Linked DNA regions of Homo sapiens. The protein of the gene in region 3 purifies or fractionates together with the protein of the main gene of each other region. This does not show direct contact. Each region holds a gene or a part of one and is shown on either strand. Other genes may lie near its edges.

Region 1 (6,163 bases), on a different chromosome or scaffold from region 3:
CTTATACATCACTTTGTAAGTTTATAGGTCCTTTAATTTTTTTTCTGGTAATTGTCTATATCTGCCCCAGTCCACCTTTAAAAAAAAAAAAAAAAAGAATCTTTTCCTCTTAGATTCATGGGTAATTTAGTTAAGAAAATTAGCTCTTTGTCATATGTATAGCAAAATATGAAGAAAATATGTTTGGTTACTTGCAAAACCTAGGGAAGGGAAAACACTGTGGTAGAAATGAAAGAGGAAAGAAAAGTATACAAATGCTCTATCTCATTTGAATATACTGGCCAGTAGTGTGCTGGTGAATGTTTAACAACTTGCTCTCTGGTCGTGGAAGGAGTACGATTTATAGCGATTCCTGCTATCCATAGTGTAAGTACTCCAACCATGGCCAGTTTCAAGCTACTGATGTGACATCACTGAATGGGAAAGGAAGAATAGTGGCACACCATTATATGTAGGAATTCCACCATACAGATACAAAATACATTATTAACCTCAAGAGCATAGACATTGATAAATATATAAAATAATTAGCAAGTGGTGAGTTTTGGATATTTGTTACCTTTATTTTTAATATATTTAATTGTAAGTTTACATAATTTTATTTTTAATATTGGTTTTAACAACTGGTGCACAGAATTCTTGAAAATTTAATAATCAGATCTTGAGAGCCAGAACAAACAAGCCAGCTTCAGTGCCGTCATTCATACTGGCCTACTTGCATGTCTCTGTCTTAATATATTCCTTCCCTTTTCATCCTTTTTTTTGTAACCCCATCAAAAAAACCTGGGAAAGAAATTTAAAATACTTTGTCTATGATTAATCCTCTTAGTTTAGTTTGCAAGTTTCAAATTTAACTGGTTGATTTGAAGTATTAAGATTCCTCTTTATATATACTTTAAATTTCTTCCATTTTTCCTTTGGTCATTTGTATTAAAATTTTTGCATACAGTTATAAAGTTAGTATATGACATGTTTAATAATTACTTGGAAAAACACAGGTACCGTCTCACATTTTGGGTGGAATTTATGCCTAATTGTATGACTTTAATTTTCCTAGTTTTTCACTAAAGATGTCATCGTACCCTCTCCTTGGACTGATCATGAAGGGAAACAGCTTTCACAATGTCATTCCAGTAAATGTGAGTGTACTAAAAATGATATGAATAAAAATCAAAAAAGTCGGTGAATATAAAGCAACATATCATGAAGTGCCAGTATATCTGCTTTGTAAGAAGCTTGCTTTAAAATTCTGGATAACATAGAATTTAACTCCTTTTAGGGTTAGAATTAAAAATTTGACTAAAATTTATTGAATTGTTTTTTAGCTGTTATACTCTGAATTTAACTTTTTCTTCATGACTATTGTGAATGTCAGTTATAATGATGGTTATAGAGGATCCATAGATGAAGAAATAGTTGGTATTGAATATAGAGATGAGTTGTTAATGACTTTAGCAGTATTTTGAAGGTTAATATTTTAGATAAAACCGTAAATTGTGTTGCCTTTTGCTAATTTGCTGATTTCTTATAAAGGTAAAGAAAGGATGAAGACTTAATATGACCTCTGGGACAGTGTATTATTGCTGAGTATCTGCAAAATTAATAAGGAAATTAAAGGGCAAGCCAGTAAGCTAACAATTATCTTTCTACCTCCAGGCAATGGTTGTCATATATTTGTTCTCACTGCTCTTTGGGTTGTGAGGCAGTATTCAGGAATCACTTGTATATATGCATCCCTCATCACAGTGGAATTACACTGTCTATTGTAGTATACCTTAATTATGCTCTCAGTATAAGAGGGAATGTTTGTTCCATTCTTTATCAAAAAACACAACATAATAATACAACAATAATAGGTAAGCTGGGTTAGTACTTTCTCTATGCCAGGACAGTGCTAAGTGCTTTCAGTAATTTCTTATAACTCATATGAAGTAGGTGTAATTATTGGCCCCATTTTATAGGTAAGAAAACCTAGTTTTAGAAAGATGAGAGCATTTGTCCAGGGTTACAGAGATGATAAAAGTGGGAAAACCTGAATTCAAAATTCTCAAATCAGATGCTGTATTCTTAGCCATTATGAATTAGTGGTAGCACGCAATAGTAGATGGAAATCTGGATTGTAAAACCTCCTACTTTTATAAACCAGAGAGGTGACCTTGATCAAATTATTCTCTTTGTACCTCAGTCTTTTATTTGTGAAATAAAAGGATTGAACTAGAGTTGTCCATTTACATCCCCCCAGCTCTAAAATTGTGTGTCCAAGGTGGCATTCTCATAGATACTAGTTTTTCACCCCCAGATTCTTTACTGTTGGATTTTTTCAACAGATGAATCAACCTTCTTAAGTGATTTTTTAAATAACATTTTTGTATTCCAAGTATCCTGTTTTAGTTCAAGTGATGCAGGATCAAGAAGATGCTTAAAAACACTTTAGACTCTTTGAAATCTAATCAAGCCCACGATAACAGTGCAGTGGTTAATAGGATAGGCTCCAGAGCTGTGCTGTTTACTGTGTTGTTGGGAGACAATTCTCCATAGGCCTCACATTTCTGCACACCTTTCATGAAGTGGCATGGACAAGTTCTGTTCCAAACTATCTTTTCTAGGGTGTTTGTCTTGGAAGGTAGAGATAGTGTGTCCCACCAGAGCAGAGGGTAAGTTTGTTTTGCTGTCCAGTATAGTAAAGATGATGTCTCCCTCTGGAGCAGATTTGTTTGCAGTCTCTCTTAAAAGAATGGGATTTCCTAAGCTTGGGGTTCCTTAGCTATGGTGAAAACCCATTGTGTGTCCACCAGCCACCTGGGTATTTTAATTTAGAATCTTTTAAGATAGAGAGCACTCCTCCCATGATTAGGAGAGACACAAGATGGAAATAAAAATTTTATTACTTACAAGTCCTAGGGGTACACAGCATACCTGAACACCACACAGGGAGGTCAGGAAGAGAGAGAAAGGGACCCATGGGCCAACGCCTTTATTGGGTCCAGGGCATTATCCAAACAGAGTTTTAGTTGGTGGGTTTAAAGCAAGCAGGCATGCATTGAGGAGGTCACACAGTGACTGAGAGATAGTCACTGTGGCATGTCTGTGTAGTCCATGTGCGGTATGAGGGTTGGGGGGTCAGTCAGGTAGGCCATATGTAGATGGCCCATAGGGAGGTGGTTACCAGGAGGAATTTATATAAGGCAGATATCTGGATCAACCACATTGAGGTATAGAACTGGAAACTGTGTCGGGTGAATGAGCCCTGCTTTTTGTATGAGAAAGTCCAGCTTGTATGCAGAATTATAAGAATTCACTGCACTGGACTGTTTCATGTCATCTTCTTGGCACTTGGGAGCAAAGGGAATTAATAGGAATGTTAAGTTCATGCTGCCTGCTGTGCTGAAAATAATAAAGTCCTTTATCTCTGCCCCCAGAAGCCTCATGTCTTTAGCCAGCACCAATGGAACTTTGACATGTTCACCTGTTAGTTGCCAAGTTGGGTAGAATCTTAGACCCTTTATAGTTCTTGACAGTTGTGGCCACGTGTGACTATTTAAATTTAAAGTTAAATTTAAAAATGGAGTTCCCCATTCACAATATTCACATTTCAGGTGCTCAATAGCCATGTGGATATCGAGTAGTATAGATAGAGAACATTCCCATCATCACAGAAAATGTTCTATTGGATGCTACTTTAGGGCCAAGGTTGGCAGCCCTTAAGTGTAAAGGATTCAATAATAAATACTTAAGCCTTTACTGACCACACAACCTCTGTTGGAACCACTCCACTCTACTGCTGTACCACAAAAGTAGCCGCTGACAATATGTAAATGAATGTGAGTGTGTACCAGTAAAACTGTATTTAAAAAAATAGGTGAAAGGCCAGATTTGCACCATGAACAATAGTTTGCTGACCCTTACTCTAGTGTAATATTATCTAGGTTTGAATTGTACCCAGTAAAGCTCACTAGCTGTGTGACTTTAGATGAGTTACTTAGCTTTTCTGTGCCTCAGTTTCCTTATCTATAAAATGATGGTTATTGTGGTACCTCTAAGATAATGTACCTAGCACATGGTGTTTGGTTATCTACCTAAAGATTAACAAATAAAATGGTGAATGAGGGGAAAAGTGGTTTTGTTTATACATGTTAGCTTGTGCTGGTAGCATTTACTATTATTAATATTTATGCAGCAAGGTGCTTCAGTGCATATCCTCATGTGTTTTTATTTATGGACTTGAGTGAGAATTTCCCTGGGATATATACGCAGGTAGAGGATTTCTGAGTTATAGAATATATCGTTACCTAATCTGACTACACAGTATTAGAGTGCTCTCTAGAATATCTGCACAGTCTGCACAGCCCCAGCAGTCCCTAGGGTTCCTGTGTCCCAGCATCCCTGCCTGCCCTTGGCATTATCCAGCTTTTACATCTTTGCCTTTCCTATAGGTTATTTGACATTCTAAATGATTGTTTCAGTTTTCTTTTTGTCTTCATAGACTAATGACCTTTTACATTTCATAGAAAATGTCTATTTGTAATTCATTGATATGTTTCAATTGGAGTTGCTAACCTTTTTTTTCCTGTTAATTTCTAAGATACCTTACATATTGTGGTTATATTGGTCTTAAACATTTCAAATGTTATCTCCCATTCTGTCATATGTATGTTACTCTTTGTTCTTGATATCCTGGGTTGCATAGAAATTTTTATTTTGGTGCAGTCAAATCCATCGATTTTTTTTTTTCCTCATTTGATTGTGGTCTTAAACTTGTCTAAGCCCTTCTAGGGGAAGCAACCAAAACACTTGGAATAGAGTTGAAAAGTGATGTGATAATGTTGCTGTAGGTGTCTTTCTGGTCTGAGGAAGGCAAGGAAGGCATGCTGGCAGAAGATAAAATTTAAGCTGAGATTTGAGTTAGACTCTTGGAATGCAGGGGAGAAAAGGCAGGGAGGAGAGAGCATAAGATAATACCTAGAGATGAGAGAGATACCTGTTTCTTGTTTGTTTGTTTTAGGTACTCAAATAATATTTAATTAGATGGCAACCATGCTAGAGAAATAGACATGGTTTTGAAAGGCTTTGTAAGCCATTGAGGTGTTTGGATTTTATCCTAAAGACTATTGCAGGGTTTTAGGCAGAGAGAGTATTGATTACATCTGCCTTATAGAAGGTCACTCTGCATGCAGTGACAAAGTCATCTGCATCCAAAATTTTCTTTATTTACCCGTTTTGATAGTATTTCACAGGGAAATTTAATTTATTCAGCAACCCACTTACCCATTTTAAAATTTAGAATTGTTAGGTTACTACACTCTATTTTGTCATTTTATTTTAGAATTCCTGAGTTGTTTCTGGTTTTGGGGGGAGGGGGGGTTTGTTTGGTCCCCTTGCTTTTTCTTCCTTTTATCTTACTTATATTAGTCTTTTTGAGATGGTTTTGGTTTTTGAGTTTTTTTAATCTGGTGATTTTTCAATTTATAAAACTTTAGAGTTAAAATAATTTGCACCCATATTTTTAACTCTTCTTGTGAAAGAAACTATATGGTTTTATTGATCAAATTTCAGGTTTTGTCAAAATAATCTGGCATTTTAATCTGTTGAGGACATTGAGGGTAGCTAAAAGGTATCCCTAACCTTTTAAGGTTGACGTCATGAAGAGTAATCATCATTTCCTTAAAAAAAAAACATTACTTTGGGATTCATCAGTCCTACTACTGGGTATTTATCCAAAGGAACCAAAATTACTATTTCAAAGAGATACCTGCACTCTCATATTTATTGCTGCATCGTTAATCACAACAGCCAAGATATGGAGTCAACCTAAGTGTCCATCAACAGATGAATGGACTTTTTAAAATGTGATATATATATATATACACACACACACACACACACACACACACACACACACACACACACAAAATGGAATACTATTCAGCCTTAAAAAAGAGGAAATTTTGTCATTTGTGACAACATATATGAATCTAGAGGACATTATGCTAAGTGAAAAAAGCCAGCCACAGAAAGACAAATACTGAATGATTTCACTTATATGTAGAATCTAAAAAAGTCAGACTCTTAGAAGTAGAGAATAGAGTGGTGGTTACCAGACGGTAGGGAGGAGGGGTGGTGGGGGAGATGTTGGTCAAAGGGTACAAAGTTTCAGTTAGACAGG
Region 2 (6,163 bases), on a different chromosome or scaffold from region 3:
TGGGGTTCTGCCCTCATAAATAAATTAATTCACTCATGGATTAATGGATTAACAGGTTATCAGAGGAGTGGAACTGGTGGCTTTACAAGAAGAGAAAGTGAGACTGGAGCTAGTGTGTTTAGCTCCTTCACCATGTGATGCCCTGCACCACCTCAGGACTCTGCAGAATCCCCACCAGCAAGAAGGCCCTCACCAAATGTAGCTCCTCAACCTTGGACTTTTCAGCTTTTGTTAACTATAAGGAATAAATTCCTTTTTTACATAAATTACCCAGTTTCAGTTATTCTGTTATAAGCAATGAAAGACAGACTACGACAATGGATAAGACCATTTCCAAGACCCATTATATTAGTTACTCTTGCCAAGAAAAAGGTGCATCCATATTACTGAAGCTAGTACTACATGTAATTTAAACACAAAATATCACATTTATTCATCAAGTATTTGAGTGGTTACTCCTACAAGGCACTGAGGGAGATACAATGAGCCATGAAACCCAGTATCTGCCCTCATTAATCTTACATTCTAATAAGCAAAATGGTTATAACTAACCATAAGGCTGAATGTGGTTATATCTCACAATAGAGATATAAAGTATCATAACTATTAAGAGACATATTTTCCCCCTTTCCAATGAGAATATTCACACATGAATAATATCACAGGGTAAAATACAGTCACAACAAGTATTCTTCAAATACAAAGAAGGACTTAACAAAAAACATAAATCTTTCCATTCTGGTTATAAATACAGGAAAACATTAGACCTATTACTTGGGAATTAGTTAAAGTACCCCCAACAATTATGTCTATTGTTAAAGATTAATGCTTGAATTGTATCATCAGTTAAAAGAAGAGCATTGTTTAAAATGTTCACAAACACAATTGTTTTGGTTTACAAATGGAATCACTTGATGTCACTTTTCTTGCACTCCTAATTTTAAATATCATTATAACTGAAAAAATAGAGCTACAAGTTTAGAGCTTACAAGTCTTAAAACTTAATATTCTCCAGCTGATATAACTGTTCTAGAGTTCTCTATAACTATATATTACAAAGTTTTAAATTATGTCACTTTAGTAGTTTTACAGATAACTGATTTTACAAAGAGTATATTAAAAAGTAATTTAGTAGGAACCTAACTATATTTTACATTCATAACATAATCACACAGAAAAAATAATTCAAATAACTTTGAACACCTATTTTGACTATATATACCTTTAGTGGGATATATTCTAAGAACATAAAATGGCAAAGAAATCTTTACTTGGTAAATCTGTTGCTGGAAGCGGTATCAGTCAGTCTAGTAATTCCAAAACTATTTTATGTGTGTTGTAGGATAGGTTAGATGAGTAAAAATAGTGATATAATTGAGAATCAGAATTCTCTCTTTGGGAAAACAGAGATATAAACAGGAATTGGAAGGAAGTGATGAGAACTCTGCAGTGTTGAATTTGAATTGAAGGTATCCTATGAACTCATGATTTCTTAAAAAATGTATATGTTGGCCGGGTACAGTGGCTCACGCCTGTAATCCCAGCACTTTGGGAGGCCGAGGCGGGTGGATTACCGGAGGTCCGGAGTTCGAGACCAGCCTGACAAACATGGAGAAACTCTGTCTCTACTAAAAATACAAAACTAGCTGGGTGTGGTGGCACATATCTGTGATCCCAGCTACTCGGGAGGCTGAGGCAGGAGAATCGCTTGAACCCAGGAGGCAGAGGTTGCGGTGAGCCAAGATCCGCCATTGCACTCCAGCCTGGGCAACAAGAGCAAGACACTGTCTCAAAAAAAAAAAAAGTGTATATGTGTGTCCATTTAAAGGGTCTAGAACCAATGACACCCCAGTAGCAAAGAGCATATTCAATACCCAGATCTTCATTTCTTTTATTTCTTTTTTTTTGAGACGGAGTCTCGCTCTGTCGCCCAGGCTGGAGTGCAGTGGCGCGAACTCGGATCACTCCAAGCTCCGCCTCCCGGGTTTACGCCATTCTCCTGCCTCAGCCTCCCTAGTAACTGGGACTACAGGCGCCCGCCACCACGCCCGGCTCATTTGTTTTTTTATTTTTTAGTAGAGATGGGGTTTCACCGTGTTAGCCAGGATGGTCCCGATCTCCTGACCTCATGATCCACCCGCCTCGGCCTCCCAAAGTGCTGGGATTACAGGCATGAGCCACCACGCCCGGCCCAGATCTTGGTTTCTAAGAATCATTTTCCACTAAAATAAACCAGGACTCTGTGGTAAAATGGCTGATTCCATGTATTGAGCAGGAAATTTACAAGGTGAGGCTGGAACATCTTATTGTGCAAATAGGAGTAAGAAAGTGCTCAAACACCAATGTGGACATATCCAAAGTTCATGGGAACCAGCTTGAAGGATCTACTACTGACCAGATTTGAGATAATTTCATCACCAAAAGGAATGATGGTAGCAAATTATAACGCACTGCATAGATTTTGAAAAAAAGGATACTTGGGTACATAGTGATACTAAAATAAAAAAGAGAAAGCTCTTATTTAGAGAAGAGAGCCAGCAAATACATGTAGGAATGACAGAAGTGGGAAATCACTATTTGGCAACCACCAATGCTTTTATCAATGGCTACTAAAATCACTGGATAGGAAAACAAAACCTGCAAAACAGAATATCCACATGACCTCAATTTATCACCCCTACAGATTACTAAATACAAAAGGGAAAACATACTTTCGGAATATAAAAATCTGGCTAAACTAAGTGATCAAACTTAATCACCAATAATGGAATAAACGATCATGTTAATCCTAATATGATTAAATGGAAAGTTCAAAACATCACCCATGTAATAGTAAAAAAAAGAAAAAAGAAAAAAAAAGAAAAACCCACAACTCTTCAATCTGAAACTCATTGTGAGGAAAAAATCAGATAAATCAATTTTGTGAGGCATTCTACCTGAAGACAAAAAAAGAAAGAAATGATAAAGACTGTTCTAGATAAAATAGACATATAAGTACTAAATACAATTAATGTCTTTAATTGGATTCGGTATTTTTGTAATGGTATAATGACATTACTGGGATATTTGGAAAAATCTAATTGTTGAATATGGACTGCATATTAGACAATATTATCATATCAAGGTTAAATTATTTGGATATGCTAATGGCATTATAGTTATATAAGAGAATGTGCTAGTTCTTAGGAGATGCATGATGAATTATTTGGGGGTAAAGTGTCACGTTGCCACCTTACTTTCAAATAGTTCAGCAAGAAAAAAAGGTGTGTGTGTGTGTGTGTGTGTGTGTGTGTATTTATAGAGAGAGAAACAGCACTTGTCTAACAGCAAGGAATGAGAGCAAAAGAGGCACTATGTTAACAACTAGTGAATCTAGGTAAAAGGATGTACAGGTATTTGTCATACTACCATTTCAATGTTTTTACAGGTTTGAAAGTAAAAAGAAAAAAATAAGGGAAAAAGTAGAAGTTAGGTTGATTTTAGAGCAGCTGATCAGACTTCATAAAGCCTAACTACTCTTCACCCTATTCAATAAGAGCTAAAAGCAAGTTCAAACTTCGAAAAGGTTTGGCTAAAAATAAAGGTAATAATCCTAACAAACAATAAGTAATCACAAACTAATCACCATAAGTTTTCTATCACAGCTGTAAACTACACATAATCTCAGAACTCTGTGAAAGATGTTATGTGCTGGTGTATCTGGGACAATAGTGAATAAGCAAAACTATTTTATATATTTTCTCCAAATCTAAATACCAAATAAATTTTTTTTCTCAAATTGAGTTTTATTAGTTACAAGGTATCCTAAAATTAAAATGGTGTCACAGGAGTCAAGATGATCTTGAACCCAGTATCACTATTATAATAATGATAATAAACACTTAAAATCTGTACCAAGTATTTTATTAACCTATGTATATATATCATTTCATTTAATTCTCACAACAATTCTATAAGGCTGGCACTATTATTATCCTCATCTTATAAATTTAAAAAAAAAAAGGCTTGGAAAAGCTGTATAACTTCTTCAAGGTCATACTGCTAGTATACAGCAAATAGAGACCATGAATCCAGGCAGTCTGACACCAAAGTCTCTTTGCTCTATACACTCTACCACTTTACTAAGAAATGTAAAATTTAAACAATAAACTATAAATCACTACTGTTTGGGTTCAATATCTATCAAAAATTACATGAATGAAGCATTTCAGAGAAAAATCACAAGTATGTATTTTTCCCTAATGCATGTATATTTATGTATGTACCAAATGAATGAAGTTAGAATTTAACCAGATGCCAGTTTACTACCAAATCTCAAGTGAAAATAAAGATGGCATGTAACTGCATTATTCAGTTACCTATTCATATACATGGTTTAATATATTACAGATAGATTCAAAACAGAGACCAACATATTTCCAGATGCTTTCATGTAGAACCCCACCCCTGCTCAATCAAGAAAAAATGATACCAAAAAAACCTATTTTAGGCATAGTATTACTCAAATATACAAAACTACAACAATGACACAAAAGGGTAAAAATAACTAAGAAATTAACCTTAAACACTGCTACCACAACAAAAAATACTAATAAACAAAGCATGTTTCCCAAACCTGGTCCTCTTTCGATGTTCTCTACCTCGGTGAAGGGTGCAACAATCCTTCCAGTTATATAAGCCAAAAACCTAAGATTAGCCCATGATATCTTCCTCTCCCTCACCTTCCATATCTAATCCATCGCCTAGTTCCACCTCCTGAACACCTCTGGAATCCATCTTACCACCACCACCTTGTCCAAAATACCATCTCTCAATTGGGCCACTCCAACAATCTTCTAACTGGCCTCTCCCCATCCCCACTCTTATCCCCTCTGTAATCAGTTCTTCCTCTGTGTAACATCAAGTCCTTTTTTAATAGCATTTACCACAGTTGTAACTTTAAATTTCTTTGACTATTTGATTTATGTCTGCCTCCTCTGTTAGTAAATTCTATGAGGGTAAACACCGTATTTACTCACTACTATACCACTGTGGCCTAGAAGAGTGTCTAGTTAATAAATAAATGCTAAATGATTGAATGCATGTCAAATATTACAATTTTACTTATATATAGTCCAAAAAATAAAAATAAAGTGCTTTATAAGGCTCACCAATTATTCTATATCACAGATTTTCACTTGTTTTTTTTTTTTTTGAGACAGGGTCCTAATTTCTACCTACCAATCCCTAACCACTATTTAAATTCCACATTAGATCTCATCTTCATGAAACATTCCCTAGTTATCTCTCTTCTCACCTTTAACATTCTAAAACACTCCCGTAAAATCTAATACATATTGACTATATTTTCTGCTTCTTGAAGGGAAAGTTTACATCTCATACATTCTGCTAGAGTATAAGCTCCCTAAGAGCAGGGACTTTTCTTGTTCACTCTATATCCCCAGCACCTTGAAGAGTGTCTGGTATGAATAGCTGCTCAGTAAGCATATGTTGATTTAACGCTCTTTATATATTTCAGGATAGAGCACAGATCCTTGCAGCTGTTGTACAGTGGGAAGAGTCGAAAAGAACTGAATTAATTTCCTTAAATTCTTCAAGCTTCAGTTTTTTCATCTGTTAAATGTAAATAATACTCAATAGCTTAGTTGGAATAACTGCGCTAATGCTTTAAAAGTATCTATGCAGAGCTGAGGACAAGAGGATACTCTTACAAACAAATGTTTTGGTGATTTTGTGACAATAGTTAAATAGTAAGTAGTCACTAAATTCCTACTAAATGAATAAAATCTCAGGAAAAATATTAAAAGATTGAGTAATGGCTACCGTATCATTTTTTTCAATAAAAAATTATATGAGTAAATTTATTCTGAAATATATTTCGCCCCAAATCTTAAGCATGGCTGAAACCATTTCAGCATTTTGTGCATTAATTAGGAATAATCCCAATTTAACATTGTACCAGTATTAATATTTATATTTTACTGACATGTATAGATCATACTTGATAGCTTAAAAAAGAATGATAATCTTAGTATAAGAACCTCTTTAGTGCAATAATTGGAATAGAAAACGAGCTGCAAACTCATTTGAGTTACGTGGTTCCCCAGAAAGCCAGAAAATTTCTGCCTTTTTATAAAACATTAGTGAACAGAATACGATGCTG
Region 3 (6,259 bases):
AAATATCTAGAATAGATAAATTCACAGAGAAAAATAGTAGATTAGAGGTTCTAGTGGGTAGAGAGAGAAGAAAATAGGGAGTTATTGCTTAATGGGTAGAGTTTCTGTTTGGGGTGATGAAAAAATTTTGGAAATAATGGTCATGGCGGCACAACACTGTATACGTACTTAATACCATTGAATTGTACATTTAACAATGATTAAGATGGCAAATTTAAGTTACATATTTTATCAGAGTAAAAAAGAAAGAGGGAGAAGAGCAGTTGTTATAGAATAAAAAAGACATGAGACAAAAGGGCCACATATAGTATTTAGACCTTATTTGGATCCTAATTCAAATAAAAGAATTACAAACAGGAAAAAAAAGCATGTGATCATAGAATATTTAAGGATACAGGGCTATGTTATTACAAGTCAACTAAAATTAAAAGCACAAAATAAAGGCCAGGCATGGTGGCTCACATCTATAATCCTAGCACTTAGGGAGGCCAAGGCGGGACGATCATTTGAGGCCAGGAGTTTGGGACCAGACTGGGCAACATAGCAAGACCCTGCCTCTACAAAAAATTTTAAAATTAGCTGGACATGGTGGTGGGTGCCTGTAATCCTACGAACTTGGGAGGCTGAGGTGAAAGGACCACTTGAGCCTAGGAATTTCAGGCTGCAGTGAGCTAAGATTATGCACTGCAGCCTAGCCTGAGTAACAGAATGAGACCTTTTAAAAAATAAAAATAAGCACAAAACAAAATGTACATTATAATCCTAATTACAATCCTAACGAGGGCCCAGACATTTTCCATCTTTTTAAAAAGCTCCACTGGTATATCACATGCATTGTCTACACAGGAAACTACTCTTCCACCCAACCAACAGATTTATCGAGCATGGTGAAGAATACAAAGATGCTCAAAACATACTATTACTTATAAGGAACCTAGTATCTAGTTGAAAACATAAGATACATTCTTATGTCTTCTTAGGGCCCAAAGAGCTATCTATTCAAGCAATCACTATCTGAGCTCAGAGGAAGGAGAAATGACCACAGAGCAGAATATTCCGGAAAAGCTTCCTGGAGGATGTGGAACTTGGGAGAATTAAAAGACTGATCAGAAGTGTTTTTTTGTGTTTTGTTTTTTGAGATGGAGTCTCCCTCTGTTGCCCAGGCTGTAGTGCAGTGACACAATCTCGGCTCACTGCAACCTCCACCTCCCGGGTTCAAGCAATTCTCCCGCCTTAGCCTCCCGAGTAGCTGGGATTACAGGTGCCTGCCACCTCAACCGGCTAGTTTTTTGTATTTTTAGTAGAGATGGGGTTTCACCATGTTGGCCAGGCTGGTCTTGAGCTCCTGACCTCAAGTGATCCACCCACCTTGGCCTCCCAAAGTGCTGAGATTACAGGAAGTGTTCTGATGAGTAGTTCCATTTTAGACATTTTGTACTTGAAGTGACAGAAGAGTAATCAATAATTATCCCAGGTTAACCACCTAGTAGGCAATTAATCTGATGTGAGACACATGTCCCAGAGATGAGACTAGAGATAAAGACTGGAGAGTAATCAACCCAGAGGTGACAATGGAACCTAGGGGTGTGGTGATGATTTCTGTGACAGAAAAGTAGAAAACAGAGAGGCCAAGGGAATCTTTAGCATGCCATTACTTACGCTACAGAAGAAACCAGCTGAGTCCCAAGAGGCAGAGGAACGTTAAGAAACACAGGAGAAAAACAAACCAGTGTAGCCTCTCAGAAGTAAAAGGAAGAGATCAGGCATGGTGGCCCAGGCCTGTAATCCCAGCACTTTGGGAGGCCGAGGTGGGTAGATTGCTTGAGGCCAGGAGTTCAAGACAGACTGGCCAACATGGTGAACCCTGTCTCTACTAAAAATACAAAAATTAGCAGGGCGTGGTGGCACATGCCTGTGATCCCAGCTACTCGGGAGGCTGAGACATGAGAATCGCTTGAACCCAAGAGGTAGAGGTTGCAGTGAGCCGAGATCGTGCCACTGCACTCCAGCCTGGGAGACAAAGCAAGACTCTGTCTCAAAAAAAAAAAAAAGTTAATGAAGGTTTACATGTTAGTTTAAAAAAAATTACCTTTGAATTTCTATGCAACCATCAAAGTAGTAACAGGGTAGAGCAGGAATAAAATGGACTTGCAGCTGGCAAACACAAGCTCCAGACCAGCTCTCCCACTGAAAATCTGACCGCAGGCAAGTCACAAGTTCTCTGAGCCTCAATTCTAGCTCTACTCAACTTCACAAGCTGTTATGATGAATGGAGGAAAAAAAATAGAACTGCTACACAAATGTAAGCATTCATTCATTCATTTATTCAGCACTGAAACAAACAATTATTGGGCATTGATGATGTTCAGGCAGGCAGGTGCTAACAAGCACTGACAAGTACATGAAACACAGCCCCTGCGGTCCCGCACGCTGCAGGGGAATGCCGATCAAGAGGCCGCCTTGGTGATTGCTGAGTGATCAAAAGGCACACAGAGGAGGGAGACAAGTCCTTCAGTAGATTAAATTTGGCCCTGCTTTATAAAAAATGCTATCAGAGCCAGGGAAAATATCTATGATGCTTCGTTTCACATAAACCCGAGGGATACACTCACCTCAGCTATCAACAGCAAAGTGTCTTCTTTGAAGCTGAACCCTTTCATTTTATCTTCAATTTCCTGCTGAGTCCTTAAGTTCCTCTCCAAAGCAAACGATGTTTGCTGAGGTTGGGTAAACTGAAGCAGAAGCCTGAAAAACCGAAAAGTCTCAATGCGTGGCGAAAAGTCCCAACGCTTCCAGATAAAGGAAAGCCGCGAGGAAATGTTCAGAAAGCCCAGGTATTGAGTCGGCTGCAAGTCCCACCAGGTTAAAAAGCAGGTACCCACCCTCACTAGAACTATCATTTCAATCCCTAAAGCTTCCGACTTGGAATCAATTGCCCAACTTTACATTGGAGATTCATCTTTTCTAAAATATAAAGACTAAAACTGCTCAAAGAAATCTTCAGAGAGCAACACCTGAAAAGAGCTTCCGGCCTCAAAAGAGCTTCCTGTGGAAGTCAAGGGATTGAAAGGATAAGTAATTTGGAGTGAAAGGAACGAGCCTCCCAATCAGACTCCTCTCACACAGGCCCTCTGGATTTGCTCCTTTGAAGTCAGTGTTCTGTGACCCTTCCATCTCGCTGACCCCACAGCAACTTGACCGCAAGGACTAATTAGATTCGCTAGCACACTTCAATTACCCCAAGCAGGGCCAAATCTTTGATGACCCTCTGACAACCACTCTGCGATACCTTACCACTGACTTCCCTGTCATGATCATAGCTGGTCTCCTCTCTCATTTAACTTCCTCCTGTCTTCCTCATTTGGCTCCTTTTTTTTTTTTTTTTTAATAAATACTCAATATGCAGATTTTCCCCTTTTTTCTCACTGGTACCTACTGCAATGCCCAGAAGCACTGGCTCTCCATGCTGTGGAACATGCCCAACACTACGCTAGGCAATGAGAGATACTGATGAGCAAAACACACTTGTGGCCTCATGGAATGAATGGAAGGAGGGAGATAGCACATAAGTATTTCAGGTAGTGACAAGTGCTATGGAAAAAAACCCAAGACAGGGTGGACACAGTAACCTCTTCAGATGCGGCGGTATAGGCAGGAAGGCTTCCTTGAGATACCAGGCAAGCTACGAGCTACCTGATGAGGAACCAGTGGGAGAACATCTGGTGGCGAGGGCTTGGCCAGGGAGAAGGGGGCTCTGACACAGGAACAAATTTGATATGCTTGAAAATCACTAAGATCACTGTGGCTGGAACACAGTCAGAGAGAAAAATGTGTAGTAAATGAGGTGGGAAAAAAAAGCAGGGCCAATTCAAATCAGACCTTGCAGGCCATGGAAAGAAATGCGGAATTGACGTAAGTGCAATGGGAAGCCATCCGGGCGTTTCAGAAAGGAGCCTGACCTGACTCACAGGTAAAATGATCATCTGTCTGCTTCAGTCTGACCTGTTGACATCACCTACCCGGCCTCGGGAAGCATTCACCTTCGTTACCCCTTTGATGTAACTTGCTTTCTGCCCTCTGGATATACTCCAGGCACCCGCGACTCGGTACTTCAAGCCTAAAATCATTGCCTTCCACCCCAAATCGGCTCTGCTCATCCTCCCAGATGTCCTATCTCAGCGGAAGGCACCACCATCCACCTGTGCATCCTCGAGAGACTCTGCAGAGACTCTTCCGGTCTCCTCACCCTCAACCTTCCCACACACTCCGCTGGTCACCAAGTCCTGTCTATTCTATCGTGCAGTGACATCCATTTCTTTTTTTTATTACCACTGTACCAGCCTAGGTCAGGCCCTCATCATCTTCCACTAATTACTCTACAACCTCTAGTCCTTAGCTCCTCCTTCTAATCCAGCATCGCAGTCACCAGAGCTCTCTAAATCACAGGTTTTGGCCAGGCGCGGTGGCTCACGCCTGTAATCCCAGCACTTTGGGAGGCCGAGGCCAGTGGATCACCTGAGGTCGGGAATTCGAGACAGCCTGACCAACATGGAGAAATCCCATCTCTACTAAAAACACAAAATTAGCCTGGCATGGTGGTGCATGCCTGTAATCCCAGCTACTCGGGAGGCTGAGGCAGGAGAATTGCTTGAACCTGAGAAGCAGAGGTTGCGGTGAGCCGAGATCGCGCCATTGCACTCCCACCTGGGCAACAAGAGTGAAACTCCGTCTCAAAAAAAAAAACACCAAAACCCAAAACACACACACACACACAGGTCTTATCACATGCTCCTGTATTTAAAACCTGCAAATACTCTTCAGGCCTTCGGCACAAAGACCAAACCCTTGTGACACCAAACATCTTGTGTTAACAATAAAAACAACAAAAATAAAAGTACTAATCTAACATTTACCAAATGCCTACTACATACCATGCAGGACAATAAGTACTTTAAATACTTTAATTCTACAACCCCAGGAAGCAGGCATTTTCCCCATTTCTCCATCTGTCAAGATTAAGCAACTAGAGAGCAGAGTTTAAGGAATGTGTGCAAGGTCAGACCGCTTGCAAGAGTTCAGGTTCATCCACTTAGCATCAGCAATTGACTAAGTTCTTCAAAACCAGTTCTGACGCCAAAGTCCTACTTCCTACTTCCTCTGCCACCCTGGCACTGTGGCCACAGCCTACCTTGAGCCCTTACCACCAATGCTGCTCTTACCACCAGACAATGTGACAACACTGTTCTAGAACGGATCCTCTGCCCCTCTGGGCGGTGCCTTCTTTTTACCTAGCATGCCTCTTCCCACGTGGGGAATATTAACGTGGAGTGAGCAAGATAAGCTGAAAGAATACAGGGTCTGGAATCAGAGACCAGCTCCAAATCCTGGCCCTGCACTTCACAGTTGCACCACTTTGGGAATGATTTTAATAGTTTCCTGATCCATCTAGTGGGATCCCAATAGGTATCCCAGAGTCATGAGGATTAAAATGAAATAATGTATACAAAGCATCTAGCACTCAGTCAACTGACAAGGGTTCCTACAGGGACCATTCAGCAGAGGCATCATCCCCTCTGTAAAGGCTTCCTTCTTTTGGCCACGCCAACAGCTCCCTGACGTTGGTCACAGCACTGATATACTATTTAGCACCTGTGCTGGCAGTTACAGGCTAGACATACCATTTCTCTGAGTGAGTGAGGGGCATAAGGGACTGCTTTTTAAATGATCTTTGTGATCCTAGCACCAAGCACATGTCTGGCACACGGTTGTCATTCAATGTGCCTCTGAATTAGTGACATGGTCAATCTAAACAAGCATCCACTGAATACATTTTAAAATTTGCCAAATAGCTGGGAACGGTAGCTCACTCCTGTAATCCCAGCACTCTGGGAAGCCGAGGCGGGTGGATCACCTGAGGTCAGGAGTTCGAGACCAGCCTGGCCAACATGGTGAAACCCTGTCTCTACTAAAAATACAAAAATTAGCCGGGTGTGGTGGTGCACAGCTGTAATCCCAGCTACTCAGGAGGCTGAGGCAGGGGAATTGCTTGAACCTGGAGACAGACGTTGCAGTGAGCGGAGATCACACCACTGCACTCCAGCCTGGGCAATAAGAGCAACTCCGTCTCAAAAAAAAAATAATAATAATAAAATAAAATTTGCCAAATAGATACCACTTCTCAGTAAGCCTCACTGTTAATATTTCTTGAATCCTCCTGAGTTAAAAAATCTGTATATTCTTTGGTACCATTTGAAACATG
Region 4 (6,163 bases), on a different chromosome or scaffold from region 3:
TCCGGGAAGTTGAACTCGTTCAGACAGTGCTCCCTGGTGTCCAGCAGGCTGCGCACGGTCAGGGTCCCATAGGCGCTGGGGACAGACACGGCAGAGGGCGCTGAGCAGGGCAGGCCGAACACCCGCCCGTCTGCCATCCTCGGCTGTGCCACGGACGTCCTCAGGAGCCCGGCAGTGCAAACGCTGCTTGAGGCGGGGTCCAAGGGGGCTGTGCCGCCAGGGCCCACACCCACCCCCAGCGAGCTGGGGTCCGAATGCCAACATCACGGCACTTTCTCAGAGGTGCAGGGGCCCTCTGGATGGAAGAGGTGGCCACACACCGGGGTGCTGGGCACTTACAAGGGCTGCTGCCTCAGGGTCTGAAGCTTGTTCCAGTACTTCTGCCGGAACTTCTCCGCCCTCTCGGCTGCATCCACAGAGTCTGGCTGGCTCGCCACTGCGCGCTTCACTACCTGCCAGCGACAGAAGGAGGGGGTTAGTCAAGCGCTGGCCCTGCTGCTTGCGAATCCCCACGTGACAGCAGGGGGCTCGGGGAAGGGTGGGGGTCGGCCGTGGGGGACTGTCTGGGGCAGGGTGGGGGCGGCTGTAGGAGGCCTGGTGCAGGGTGGGAGCCGGCTGTCGGGGGCTGTTTGGGGCAGGGTGGGGGCTAGCTATGGGGGGCTTCCCGGGGCAGGGTCAGGGCCTGCTGTGGGGGACTCGGGCAGGGTGGGGGCTGCCTGGGCTGTGGTCAGGGCAGTTTCTACTGGAACAGGAAAGGCTGACGGTGACAGTTCACGGTCACCCGAGGCTTCCCTTTGCCATTCGCCCCTCCCAGTTGCCCTGGGAGGCAGGAGCAGGAGTGACCTTGGTCCCTCACCCCCCAGGAAACCCGAGGCCAAGACCCACGTCCTCAGACTCGAGCCCCCATCCTGTGCCGGGGACGAGGGGCTCTGGGCACTCAGAGCTCACTCCGGGTCCTGGGCAGGGCTGGGACTCCTCCCTCAGGACAAACCCTGGCACGACCCGGCCTCTCCGAGGGCTTCGTGAAGAGTGCGTGTTGCTACCGGGGCTCCCTGGCCCCGAGCTGAGCTCCTGAGGGGCAGCGTGGCCCAGGGCCTGGCATTTGCTCCACGGGACCAGCCCAGCCTTGGAGAAGGTGGGACGCAGGAGTCCCAAGGTGGCCTCGCCGGGAGCTTGCTGGGGCTGAGTCTCACCCCACCCCCAGAGTCAGGGTCCCACAATGCCTCCCGCACCTCAGTCACACCTCAAAAGAGCAGAGACGTCTCCTAAATTGCTTTTTGAAGGAATGTGCTAGCTAGCAGAACTATCAGCTGCCCTTAGAAGCAACGTGCCTCGCAGACGCCACGTCCTCACTGACCCACCAGGTGGCCAGGAGCGGTATTTTTGCCTGAGAAACCAAAATCGCCCCCTCACTCAGACGCAGATCAAGGGGTTTCTGGACAACACTGGCCTGTCCCCCTTCGCCACCTTGGCTTTGCCCCCGGAGCCTTGGAAGGTTAACCCGGCTGCGGCCTTGGAATCGTCTAGACGGCACCCGGAGCCCTCACCCCGTCCAGGGCCTCCTCAAAGCAGGTGAGCCAGTATTTTCGGGCCAGAGCGTCATCGGTGAGGTCCACCGTGTCGGGCACGTAGGAGGGCGGGTCCAGGAGGAGCGGCAGGTCAACCAGTGGCCTCTCCAGCCGGTCCATTTCCAGCAAGTCAAACTGGAAGACAGGCAGTGGCAGGGTGGAAACGTCACCATGGTTCAGAACGACCCAAGCCACACTCAGAAGCTTCCACTCTCTCTCTAAGAAGGGAGATGTACTGCCTTCTTCCGCCACGTCTCTGGGCCACAGACGAGACCCCCACTGGGCCCCCTCAGCTGCCCGGCGGCCTGAGCCGGATACCTTGACTTACCCCCTGGTTTGACACTGGGGTTGCGTCTGCTCCCACCACACGCCTCCTGCCCCCAGCACCTCCCCGCTGCAGCCACACCTCCCCAATCACCGCTGCAGTCACCCTCCCATCACCCCTCCTCCACCATCCCTATAGTAACTCCCTCCCCCATCACCACCTCCCTGCAGTCACCCCTCCCTGTCACCCCTACAGTTTCACCTCCTCCCGTGACCCCTGCAGTCACACTGTTCCCACCTCTGGTCCTCCAGGTGGCCGTGTCTGCACACAGAGGTTTGGGGTTCTGTCCTCACTAAGCACCAGGCAGTGTTCCACTCCGTGCCGGGCAGGGAGTCCCCACGCCCCACATGCACCCTTCTTCCTCCATGGCTGCCGGGCCTCCCAGCACGTTCTGTCCATGAAGGACTATGGCAGGGCCAGGCCATTATGCACCCAGGGCACCCCGGGGCCACCTGCACCCAGCACAGGCGCGCTCACGGGCCCTGCTGGCTTTTTCTACCTTATGCCGGGAGGAAGTGAACTGAACTGAGCCGACGCACACATCAGTACTCGGCTCTCTGCACGCTCACCGCAGCAGCCGCTGCTCTGGGACCAGAGGGGCTATGAGGGGAACTGTGTAGCTGACCGCCTCTTCCCACCCTCCGGTGGCTACCCCACAGGTCACATGCTGGCCCTCTGCCCTTCTCCACTGGGGCACCCCTGCTGGCAACCCCTGGGGCTGGAGAAGCAGCCTCTGGGTGGGCAGGGACCTCCAGAGCAAAGGGGACGCCTTCCAGGTGGGAAGCCCATGCCGGGCAGAAGCTCCACGTGGAAAAAGCCAGTGACTTCCCAAAGCCAGTGCAGAAGGCGGCAGGAGCCCCACCTTAACTACCACGGACCACAGCCGGGATCGCCTGGTGCTGCCTTGCCAGGTCGCAGGCTCCTTCTATCCTGACAAATGGGTTCAAATCTTCGCTTTGACTTTTTTGGACAATATAAACTGAAATAAATGACTCCATCTCTCTGCATGTCAGTTTGATCCTCAGTAAGGTGGGGGCCCCTCCTGCCTGGCAGGGCTGTGCCACTGGTGGGGTACCAAATAGGTAACAAGCGCCTCCTGAACGGGGCCCCCGAAGCACTGTGGCCGTCCACGCAGTCACTCCAGGTTACAGTCCAGGACATTTGGCAAATTATGCACACTTGGCAAATCAGAAACTGAGGCTGGAAGACACCAAGCCCCTCTGCCCAACAGCAGGGCAAAAGCTGAGAGCCTGGGGCTCTGCCAGGCCCCCAGAGCCTCGCCCCCACTCCCCTGCCTAGTGCTGGCGGTGGGAAAGGCAGACCAGGGCTGCGGCCAGTGTGGTGCGTCTGTGCGAGGCCGTGGCCTGGTGTGAACTGCAGGACCCACACAAAAGGGAGGCGCCCTCCTGAGAAGCCAAAACTCAACAAGTCGCGGTCTTGAAAATACTGACACTGAACCCCATGTCTACAAATGACAAGCAACTTCCTGCCAACAATGCCAGCGGCCTGTCCTGAGGGGTCCGACTAGCTTTGTGCGTGACCTCAGGTTAACTGCTCACAGCTACAGAAGGAATGAGCCCCGCGGGGGGGCACGGTCGAGGACCCTGACAGCCTGTGACACGGGGCGGTTCCTGCCATGTGGGGCTGTGCTGGGGGCATCCCGTGGCTGACGCAGGTCCTGGCGGGGGACCCTTCCGGAGCAGCTCCAACTCGGCAGACATGGGGTGCGTCTCCTAGCCCGCCAGTGCCACCCAGCTCAGGCCAGGGCAAACCCACTGGGGATCCAAGGAATGAGCCGGGACACCCCGAGGAGAGCAGACTGTAACCGACAGACCATCAGCCACAGTGCGCGGCAGTGTGCGGCAGAGCGCGCAGTCCTAGGCAGGGCCCTGGGTGGCTCCTGCGGTTTCGGGTTTCAACTCCAAAGTGGACGGGCCTTCTGGCGTGGGGAGAGGTCCCCGTCACCCCTGAACTTTAGCAATCTCTCTGCAAACAAGAAGGCCGGATCACACAGACTCCGTAATTCCTGCTGAATGTTTCCAAAATACGAAAGCACCCAATGAGGGAGATGGGAAAGCAAGCCACAGTGTCCTTCTCTTGCCCCTAGTTATACCCCAGGTCCATGGGAGGATTCGCCATGGGCAGAGGCGCCTTTCAGCCGGGACAGCCACAAGAGGCTTCGCTCAGGGACAGGCGAGGTGAGTGCGGCATAGGCTGCTCCCCTGGGGCCCGGGGCGGCCAGAGCCCACTACTCACAGTGCCACTCCGCGCCCGCTGCGCCGGGCCGAGCTCGGGTGATGCACTCATCAGCCCGGAGCTGCCTGCATAGTTCTCTCCCCAGCTGTACTGGTTAGGATCTGGAAAGCAAGAAGCCAGGTCACTTGTGTTAACCTTGCCCTTGATTCAAAAGCAGGAGAGTGGAGGAGGAAAGGGTATAAAATCGCTTATTAACTAAATTGTTAAAATGTTAGACATGCCTGCTGCTGTCACTTTCTGAGGACTCACGCTCCCCACCCCACCTCCACCCTGGGCCGCCCTGGCCTGGAGCACAGGCCCAGGCCACAGCTGAGGCCCCACGCTGCTCAGGGGCGCCAGCACCGCGACTCACTGTCCTGCTCAGCTCCTTTCAGGAACGCTCCGATGGCTCCCAGGTAGCCTTCGTGCCTCAGAAACAGCGCCTGCACTTCCCCCTGCCGTGGCCAAAGCACACGTGCTGCTGTTGGCCCCACACAACACCCGGTGCCTCCGCAAACCAGCTCAACGTGCGCGGGCCTCGCACCGCGCGGCCCAAACCCTCGAAGAGGCGCCATGGCACCCACGGCATACTTGCCAGTGGAATCGCGCCTGGCACCAGAGGGCGGGCTGCTGTTTGAAGAAAGCTAAGGGTGAGATAGCTTCTCCCATGCAGCGAGTCCCTGGCCCACAAGTCTCTGCGTCAGGCATGTGGGTGGGCGTGCCTCTGCGGGGGCAGGGGCACCCTGACCCCAGCGCAGATCAGCAGGCCTGCCTGGAGCTCTCTAGAATGCTCATCACTGGTGATGTACTCAAACTCAGGTGGCCACGGTGCCACAAAATGTAGGCTGCCCAGAATCAGTCAGAAGGGAGGGGTGCTGGGCTTCTTGGCCCCCACCCTCCAGGCCTCCCTGGGGGTGCTGCGGTGTCTAACCAGCATGACTGATTGGGAAGATCCTGGGGGGTCTGCGTTAGAGGCTGGGGAGGGCGGCGCATCCGTTACCTTGGAGAAGAAGTTGATGCTATAGGTGATGGTGCGCATGGTCACGGGGTGGCCCCGGATAAAGAAGCCTCCAAAGTACACGCGGTCCAGGCTGTGCAGCCGTGCGTGGAGGCAGGCCAGCTGCCCAATGTCGTTGCTGATCATGTGCAGCAGGCTCTTCGCCATGTCTTCTTTGGAGAACTCTGAGGAAGGGAAGGAAAAGGCACTCATCTCCAAGTACAGCAAGTGCACGACATGAGAGCGAGCAGGAGGGGAGGGGGAGAGAGAGCTGAGTGGGAGGGGAGGGGGAGAGAGAGCTGAGTGGGAGGGGAGGGGGAGAGAGAGCTGAGTGGGGGAACTGGAGCCCAAGTGCGGGAGGCTGCGTGTGATGTGTGAATCATTCCTGGACGGATTAAGCTTTGTTTTGAAGGAGGAAAAAACCCAATCAGGAAACTATTTTTTCTTCCAAAACCAAGACCGTGGCGTTTATCTGCCGACGTTCTGAGCAGTGGGCCTGAGCTGCAGCGACTCGGCAGGAAGAGGTTACAGGGCTGACACCCAAGACCCCGACTCTCCAGGGAGCAGTTGTGGGAAAGCAATGGTGGGGGAAGCTCCTGTCCGTGAGACCCCAAGTGTCCCCACCATCCTGCTCTCTGGCGGCAGAGGCCGGGGTGAGCACCTTGGTCGGCGGTGGCCGACTTCCCGAAGCTGCTGGCGATGAGGTTCCCGCTCAGCCCGAGAGTCTGGTGGGCGCCGCCGTAGACGTCCCGCACCAGCATGTCCACATTGCTGTGCTGGCCCCTCGAGGCCAGGTGCAGGAGCTCGTCAAACTTCTGCAGGACACGGCGAGGGGGCGGGTGAGGCGCCAGGAGCTGCTGGAATCCCCACGACCCCAGAAACCAAGCCCATGGCAGGAGGCACGCGCGGGCAGGGGGTAAATGGGCCCTCATCGCGTGGGACCAAAGGCAGGAGGCGGCAAGCGGGACCCTCGGGCCACCCAGCCAGGATAGAAGCTCTGGGTTGCTGGGACACCCAACCCTCAGGGCGCAAAGAGTG

The links.
Region 1: the proteins of ZHX1-C8orf76 (region 3) and BORA purify together in Homo sapiens (affinity purification with mass spectrometry; one large-scale study listed by BioGRID and IntAct). This does not show direct contact.
Region 2: the proteins of ZHX1-C8orf76 (region 3) and ATG4C purify together in Homo sapiens (affinity purification with mass spectrometry; one large-scale study listed by BioGRID and IntAct). This does not show direct contact.
Region 4: the proteins of ZHX1-C8orf76 (region 3) and PANK4 purify together in Homo sapiens (affinity purification with mass spectrometry; one large-scale study listed by BioGRID and IntAct). This does not show direct contact.

What each region holds. Positions count from the first base shown.
Region 1 is NC_000013.11:72,736,905-72,743,067, forward strand, and holds part of BORA (protein aurora borealis), read left to right. Parts: intron 1-1,057; coding exon 1,058-1,139; intron 1,140-6,163. UniProt on the Homo sapiens protein: Required for the activation of AURKA at the onset of mitosis.
Region 2 is NC_000001.11:62,785,561-62,791,723, reverse strand, and holds part of ATG4C (cysteine protease ATG4C), read right to left. Parts: intron 1-6,163. UniProt on the Homo sapiens protein: Cysteine protease that plays a key role in autophagy by mediating both proteolytic activation and delipidation of ATG8 family proteins.
Region 3 is NC_000008.11:123,223,888-123,230,146, forward strand, and holds the end of ZHX1-C8orf76 (zinc fingers and homeoboxes protein 1), read right to left. Parts: intron 2,746-6,259; coding exon 2,586-2,745; 3' UTR 2,304-2,585; downstream 1-2,303. Other genes in the region: uncharacterized protein C8orf76, read right to left, coding at 2,613-2,745.
Region 4 is NC_000001.11:2,514,015-2,520,177, forward strand, and holds part of PANK4 (4'-phosphopantetheine phosphatase), read right to left. Parts: intron 5,941-6,163; coding exon 5,787-5,940; intron 5,311-5,786; coding exon 5,129-5,310; intron 4,584-5,128; coding exon 4,502-4,583; intron 4,251-4,501; coding exon 4,150-4,250; intron 3,880-4,149; coding exon of another isoform or gene 3,868-3,879; exon of another isoform or gene 2,064-3,867; intron 1,704-2,063; coding exon 1,548-1,703; intron 453-1,547; coding exon 340-452; intron 76-339; coding exon 1-75. UniProt on the Homo sapiens protein: Phosphatase which shows a preference for 4'-phosphopantetheine and its oxidatively damaged forms (sulfonate or S-sulfonate), providing strong indirect evidence that the phosphatase activity pre-empts damage in the coenzyme A (CoA) pathway.